2 linked regions of the Homo sapiens genome follow. The protein of the gene in region 2 interacts with the protein of the main gene of each other region in a biochemical or structural test. Each region holds a gene or a part of one and is shown on either strand. Other genes may lie near its edges.

Region 1 (3,900 bases), on a different chromosome or scaffold from region 2:
GTCCAGCCTCAGACCTCCGAGTCACTCCTGCGGAGGGCGGGCTGCAACCCGGCGCCCGCGTCCCTGCCCCCACACAGCTCAGCGCACCTGTCCCGGGGGAACTCCCATAGTGGGTCGAGAGGTAGATCTAGACTCACGAGGCCGGCGAGCAAGGCGGGGCCGCTGGAGGAGAGACGCACGCCTCGTACCAGGGATGAGCTTGACTTGCCGGAAGAGCCTGACTCCAGGGAGAACTGCAAAGTGGGAGACTTGGTTCTGCCTGCTGGAGTCAGGCTGTCACATGTGAGGTGGGGGATGCGCCCAGTACCTGTCGGGCCAGAGGGAAGCGGGAGAGCTTCTGCACAGTGGCGGGCGGGCGGGGGTGCCGGCCGTGGAGCGCCTGCCCTCGATACAGCCCGGCCAGCAGCAGGAGCACAGCCAAGGCCAGGGAGCCCGACGCGTACAGGATGATGTCCGTATACCTGGCCTCGGGCGCTGCTGCGGTCCATGTGGGGTCCTCCTCTGCCCTCGCACATGGACACACACAGACAGACAAACTGGTCAGTGGTGAGACTGGCCGCCCCGTGCACCCTAACTCAGTCCCTCCCAGCTCCCAACATATGTGGGGACACACACGGAGGAAGCTGTAGTTATGCCCAGTCCCAGGCACCCACACCTCAGCAGACGGTCACATGGACGGCCACGTGTGGAGAGGCACAGAGGGGCTGTCATACAGCTCAAACCCACAAATCCACACACTGCCCCCCAGGCCAGACCCCACAGGCCAACAGAGACTGACCACCCAACAGGCCACAGCCCCCACTGCTGGCCCAGAGGGGCATCTCGCAGCATCTCCTGGCCCTTCAGGTGCTCACCTGGCAGCACCGTGAGCCAGGCAGACTGGTAGGAGAGGCCGATGGAATTGCCTGCGAGGCAGGTGTACTCGCCTGCGTCCTCGGCTGACACGTTCCGCAGGTACAGGACCTCCACCTCTGAGCTATTGATGTCTGCAGTCTGGGGTGGGGGACATGCTCTGGGGTCACAGCAGGGCCTGGGGCCACACTGTGGCCAACAGGGAAGCTGGGGAGCCCCCCAACCCAAGGTGGGAGAAGAATGGGGCCCAGGCTGCAGCAGGGTGCACCTTTTACCTTTAGGACTTGCACATAGGGGAAACCGTCGGCTCCGAAGCTGCTGCCGTTGATGACGATGTGCTTCAGCCACTGGATGTGGGGCTGGGCATCGCTGTACACCTTGCACAGCAGCTCCACGTCGCTGCCCACCACGGCTGTGGTGTTGGCCGGGAGCCCGGCCTGCAGGATGGGCCGGTGCGGGGACCGCTCTGGGGACCGGGCGAGACAGTCAACCCTGACCACCGGCACCCATAGAAGCACCCTGTTTGCCTCCCTCCAGCCTTCCTCAAGTTCAAGGGAGGGACCTTTCTGCAGCTTCTTGTCTGTCTCCTGCTTACCCTGCTTAAACCTTCCCTGGCTCCCTATTGCTTCGGGTCAAGGACAACATCTCAGCCTAGCATTCAAAACCCTCCACCACCTGGCTCCCCATATAAACGCCACGCCCTACGAATATGCTGGCCTGCAAGTGCAGGGCGTTTGTTATACTCAGGCCCTCCGCTCGGGCTGCGCCCTCTGCCTGGATGTCCTTCTTGTTTTTCCTCTTGGCAGACCTCTGCTCCTCCAGCCCCACACTAACCCCTGTGCTTTCCCCTGACCCACCTGCTCACCAAGCTGCCTGACTCATCTGAGTCCATCCTGCCTGCCAGACTAGACCCCACCAAGAGGGCACAACTGAGCCCAAAATGGGTCAGGCCTCCCCTGTTCCCAGCCCCGCGCTCACCCAGCACATCTAGCAGGTAGTTATAGCGGATGCTGCCCACAGCGTTCTCTACCAGGCAGGTGTATGTGCCGCGGTCCGAGGGCACCACGCTCTCCATCACGAGACTCCAGTGCTGATGGCGCAGCTGCAGGCAGAGAGAGTGTCCGGGACCACCGGACCATGTCCACCAAGGGGGCCAGAGGACCAGGAGGCTAGATCCTCATCCTGCCCACAGGGCTCTTGTCAAGCTCTCTAGGCCCTGAGAACATCAGGCCCAGGCCAAGGACTATGGCACAAAGGAGTAGGCTCCCCAGGGCGCTTGAGCCTTGGGTTTGAGCCTTTGGAATTTTAGCTCTCCCTCTCCCTAGCTGTGCTACTTTGAGCCAACCCTTGCCTTCTCTGAGACTCAGTTGCCTCATGACAGCATGGAGCCGACCCTGCAGGGTCTCATCAAGACGATGAGATGCTAAGGCTTATGCAGACCAACCAGTCAGTGATTCTTCTCCCTTTACAAATGGAGTTGCTGAGGCTGAGAGGTTAAGTCACTTGCCAGAGAGTAGCAGAAGGGGAACCAGAGCTGCCCAGGTCCACAGTCCAGGGCTCCTTCCGGGGCCCCGCAATCGCTTCACTCATTCGATTGATTTATAGGTATGCTTGTAGGTATGAGGGGACTGATGAAGGAATGAAAATGGGGGAGCAGACGGTCTTGGAACCCAGAGACTCACCCGAATGCCTCCAATGCGGTTCTCCCCATGAAAGGCCTGTCCATCCTTAAGCCAGCGGATGGTGGGCGTGGGGTTGCCTGCAGCTGGACAGCGGAACTTGACGGTGTTCCCCGCAGGTACTGCATGCAGTTTCTTCTCCATGCGCTGGGGGTGTGTCCAGTAGGGTGCTGGAGGGCAGGGGAAGGCCCCTAGAATGACCGTGTGTTCCCACACAGGCCTCCTCTTCTCAGTGATCAGATGAGCAGCAGCGGGGACACAAGTCCTTGGAGACCTACTGACCTTGCTGGGGGTAACTGTGCCTATTCGAGGGGTCCCTATGGGACTTGGGGTCCTCATCATCGTTGCTGGAGGTCAAGGAGTCTACATCAGGGACAGAGGGAAGCATCTAAGGTCCAAGAGGGGCAGGTCTGTCTCCCCAGGCATCCCTTCACTCCCTGCTAGAGTCTCTTACCACCTGTAATCAAGGTGAGATTCTGCAGGACGATCATGGAGCCTCGTGCCAGGCAGAGGTAGCGGCCAGCATCCTCAGGTAGGAAGCTGGCAATCTCTAGGCGGCCCCTCCAGCCCCGTACACGGCCAGCAGGTGCCAGGCGACTGCCCTCCTTGTACCAGTGGCCACCACGCTCAGCCCGCCCACAGCACAGACGCACAGGCTGCCCAAGGGCTACTGTCAGCTCCTGCTCTTGCTGCTCCAGGCTGGGAGCCAGGCAGGGCTCTGTGGGCAGAGGGCAGAGGTCAGCAGACCCCGCAGCCCCATCTGAGGCAGCCTCCTGTGTACAAAGAACACACCGCACATGCAGGGCACAAGCACTTTGCAACGCATGCTGAAGGAGCCACCACTCCTTGACACCCACACAGCCACATGCTGCGGATGCCACACCCAGGGCAAATGCCACACTCTTGGGGCATGTCACACACACAGCATTTAGTGCACACGACAGTGGCCAAGACACACACACACACACACACGCATACACACACACACATACGGACACACACACACACAAGGCACATGCTGTTGGTGCCACATACAGGGTCATGCTGCACCGGGGCATATCACCCTCATAATGCTTATACCACACATGCTGCCTGGACCTCCTAGGTCACACACCCAGTGCACAGAACACACACACACACGCACACACACCCAGGTAAGGAGCTCACCACCAGCTCTGCAGCCCAGCTTAGGGCCCTGCGCCCTGCAAGGCCAGTCCTCTCTCGCAGACACAGTGATAGATGAATGCTTGCTGGAAGCCAGGCACTGACTGAGTCTCAGTGGTTGAGCCCTGCCCTGCCGCCACCTTCTCAGGGCCTGGGCAAGGATCCTTTCCAGCTTTGCTCAGCCCAGCAGCCCCCTCCTGGTGCC
Region 2 (3,900 bases):
GCTGGGCTTGGTGGTGGGTACCTGTAATCCCAGCTCCATGGGAGGCTGAGGTAGCAGAAACGCTTGAACCTGGGAGGCACAGGTTGCAGTGAGCCGAGATCTGGCCACTGCATTCCAGCCTGGGCGACAGAGCAAGACTCTGCCAAAAAAAAAAAAAAAAAAAAAAAAAAAAGGCACAGAGGGATTTCAGGTGACCCAACCCCCAATTTGGGCAGAATGGCGGGTTAGGTTGACGTCCCCTGCTGGCCTCCCATCATTAGGAACCCCCACACCCCCTGCCATAGTAAATGTCAAAATTAAAGTTGCAAGGGTGGGTTTGGAGCGGCTCTGGGTGGGAGTCAGCGTCCAGCGTGCCGACCACCCCCTTTCTCTGCAGTCCTCTCACGCAGGACTCCGCCATAAAACCTGAAACAGGCGCTCCGAGTACACGGAGCACGGCAGAGGCACCGAGCAATTTTGAGACTCTAAAATGCTTTGTCCCGCTGTTCACAAAGGAGCTGGTTGGGCCGGAGGCGGCCCCGCCTCTGCATCCTTTCTGGGGTGGGGGCCCCGGGCAGGCGCGGCCACCCCCGCCCTGGCCCCTGCTCCGCCAGGGAGTCCGGGGCTGCGTGTGAGGCCTGCGCGGGCCGAGACCTCACACAGCCTCCTCTGCGCGCGGGGCCGCGGGAGGGGCGCGGGTTCGTTCCTTTGAACTCCCAGCCTTTGTTCCCGGCCACCAGAGCCCCAGCGCTCGTACACTTCCGGCCCCGGGACCTCTGCGGTTACCTGGGCCTTCCCTGCCAGCCCCCACCCCCTGCCCCCACCAGAAAGCGTTTACAGGACAGGTGAGGCCCGCAGGAGGAAAAGCACTCCCCTGGCGCAACATGACTCCAGCGCATCTGCGTCTAAGCCACACCGTGCTCCTGGTAGATTAAAAATTAATTCTAAAAAAAAAATCTCTCCTATCCCAAATGCACTGTTTTCTGCCTTGCTTGACAATTGATTTGTTTTTAAAGGAAAGTTATGGGTAGATCCTCTTTTTTCTTTCCCATTCTTTTTTTCTTCTTTTATACTGGAGGGAGGGAAACGGAGGCGAGGACCACACACGCGCAGGCAGAGGCTGAAAAGGCCCGAGGTGGGTTTTCCTGTTTAATATCAAAGGAGGCCGAATAATGGGTTTCCTCGGTCCGGCTAGGCCGGCCTTTGACTCAATTGGAAATGCAAAGGCAGCTTTTGCCTATTCTCTGGCTGCTGGCTGAGACCCTAAATTTCCGTAGGAAATCGTCGGACATGCACTTAATCGGTCTTTGCAATCTTTCCCTCGAAGTTGCACGCGGGTCTGGGCGGAGGAGGCGAGGAAACCCTGGATTCGAACCAGCGCCTTTCTCTCCTTCAGGCCTCCGCCCGGGGACAGGCGCCGGTCCCCCGCCCCGGCGCATCCGCCCCGTGGGGACACTTACCAGCCCCTGCATCTTGCCGTCGGCGCCCATGCAGAGGTACCGCACGCTGTGCACGCCCTTGATGGCCACGGTCCGCAGAGCGACTGCCTTGATCTCCAGCAAACCTAGGCGCAGGGGAAGCGAGAAGCTGCAGCAAGGACCGCTGGGCCCGCACCACGTGGGTGCGGTCGGTCCACAAGCCTGTGCTTCTCCCTAGCGTCCCGCGCTGTTTGGGGACTAACGGAGGGATCCTAACGTCCAGGTGCCAAAACCTGGGGTTCCCAGGAGTTGAGGGGTCCGCAGGAGCCTAAGGGTGGCAAAGGAAGGAAGGGCGCTGGGGTGGGGCGCGCGCAGCGGGGTGGGGTGCGCGCGGCGGGGCGGGCGGGGGTGCTGGCGGGCACTCACTGTGCGCGCTCTGGCCCCGCGCGCAGTCCACGACGCCGTCGGCACGGATGCGCAGGAAGCAGCTGGAGAGCCCGTGGGGGCCGGAGGTGTACAGGTGCCGCAGGCGGATGGGGTCGCCCCAGCCGTAGTGCACGTGGGGCCCCGCGTCCGAGAAGGCGAGGGGGCGCCCGGCCACGGCCAGCCAGAGGCCGGCCAGGATCCATACGTGGACCACCACACACCCGCTCCGCATGGCACCTCCCTGGGGCTCTCGGCGCAGCTCCGGCGATGGGGGTGCGGGAGGCTGGGCGGCGACCGGGATGCGCTGCGGGGCTGTGAGTGCCGGGTTGGGATGGTCGTGGCCCTAGATCCTGGACGCAGCGCTCCTGCTCTGACGGCGCGGCGGCTCCGGGCCGGCAGCCTTATATAGTAGCGCCTTACGGGCCCCACGGGTAGGTGCCCAAGACACCCGAGCATTTCTTATCGGGATTGCATCAAGCCTCCGCCCCCCGCACACACCCACTCACACCCCGCCTCCGGCCCCAGCCCCAGCCCCCTCCCCGGGCCCGGGCAGGCAGGCGGCGGCTTCTTGTCCCAGCCGGGGTGACCCCGCCCAGGCCGTTCGGATCTGCGGGAGGAGGAGGCCTCGCTTAGCGGCCGGGTTTCGGGGAACTCCTCCCCACCGCGCAGCGGCCCCGAGGTTCTTGGCTGGGAGAGTTTGACTTTGTAAAGCAATCGACAACTGGGGCCCTTCCCCCAGGCCTCAGGCTCCCAGTGGATGCACTCGGCGTGGGGCACTAGCGGGGGCGGGGTCAGGAACCCCGGGGCCAGAGGTTGGGGGGCACCGAGTTTTGCCCCCTTCACCCTCTGTCGGGAAAAGCCTCACCTCGGCCTTAGTGCCCTTCCCCTTAAAAGCCCACTCGCACTCCCTCCCCCGACTTTCGCAGCCCCGCACATCTGACGTCAAAGCCGTCCCGTAGAATTTTCCCCGGCAGTTCCGACAGTCTCAGGTTCTTTCAGCTTCATCTTCTTGCAATTCCTGCCCCGCCCCTTTTATCCGGGTAAATTGCCCCCCGACGGGGGGCCGGGCGCGCTCTCGGCCGGCGGGGAAACAATGGAAGCCGCGCGGACTGTAGGTGGCGCCGCAGCCTCGGCGTCCGCCTGGGCTTTGCGCTCCTGGCCCCGCGCCCCTGCCTGCTCCGCGCTCGCCCCGGCCCCGCGGCTGTGCGCGAGATGCAACCTGAAAGGGGGCACTGGGAAGGAGGCTCTCGGGCAGGGTGGGCGGGCCAGCTGCGGGATTGGTGAACCCCAGCTTCTCGGCTGGAGGGTGGTGGAGGCAGGGGCGCAGGGAGGGAGGCCTGGGCCTCCGTTTCCCGTTTTTTGAGCTGTCTTGTGTCGGGGGTCTGGTTTTTGAGTCCCCGAGTCCCTGCGCACGGGGTCAGGAGGAACAGCACGGTCGGGGAGGTCGAGAGCGCCTTACCTGGTGGGGAGGGGTCGGGAAGGGGCCCAGGAACGGTGATGGGCGCCCCTGGCGTCCGGGCAGGTGCCAGGTGAGGAAAGAAATGGGGGCCGCTCCATGAAGCGGTTCCTGCCAATAAAGAAAACGACATCCAGAGAATACCCAGGCGGGGAATAAAGGGGTCCTCCTACGGGGCTTTGGTTTAACTCTAATTATTTCTTGTTATTCTTCCAAACCCCCAGCTCCTGGATGTGGGGCCCCAGGAGGCTGGTTTTGGGGGCAGAGCCCTCCTGGCCCAGCGCAAAGGCGATGGGGAGGGCAAACAGGAGAGACAGCGAGAGAAATGCCAGGCCTAATGAATTTCAATGAGCAGAGGCCACATTCATTCCCCAGTCAGTGACTGGCGTTAATGACTGAGGGCGCAGCAAATGTCACCAGGAAAGTCTTTACAAAAAGACATCATCCCGAAGGCTTTCTAGACCAGGGACCCCCACGCTGTGTGTCTTGGTTCAGAAAGCCGTGGCTTCTGTTAAATCTAATTACTTCCCCCCTGTGGCTTTAAATCGACGGCGGCTCCTATTAAACTTAATTACCCTCCCCTGCAGCTTTCGTTTTAAAGATCCGTGGTAAATGCGTGAT

What was found.
Region 1: the proteins of FGF19 (region 2) and FGFR4 form a complex in vitro, tested with the Homo sapiens proteins (2 studies listed by BioGRID and IntAct).

Annotation. Positions count from the first base shown.
Region 1 is NC_000005.10:177,089,739-177,093,638, reverse strand, and holds part of FGFR4 (fibroblast growth factor receptor 4 isoform 1 precursor), read right to left. Parts: intron 3,250-3,900; coding exon 2,986-3,249; intron 2,895-2,985; coding exon 2,814-2,894; intron 2,702-2,813; coding exon 2,535-2,701; intron 1,955-2,534; coding exon 1,831-1,954; intron 1,319-1,830; coding exon 1,128-1,318; intron 994-1,127; coding exon 855-993; intron 502-854; coding exon 308-501; coding exon of another isoform or gene 234-307; coding exon 88-233; intron 1-87. UniProt on the Homo sapiens protein: Tyrosine-protein kinase that acts as a cell-surface receptor for fibroblast growth factors and plays a role in the regulation of cell proliferation, differentiation and migration, and in regulation of lipid metabolism, bile acid biosynthesis, glucose uptake, vitamin D metabolism and phosphate homeostasis.
Region 2 is NC_000011.10:69,701,822-69,705,721, forward strand, and holds the start of FGF19 (fibroblast growth factor 19 precursor), read right to left. Parts: upstream 2,202-3,900; 5' UTR 2,056-2,201; coding exon 1,824-2,055; intron 1,544-1,823; coding exon 1,440-1,543; intron 1-1,439. UniProt on the Homo sapiens protein: Involved in the suppression of bile acid biosynthesis through down-regulation of CYP7A1 expression, following positive regulation of the JNK and ERK1/2 cascades. Stimulates glucose uptake in adipocytes. Activity requires the presence of KLB and FGFR4.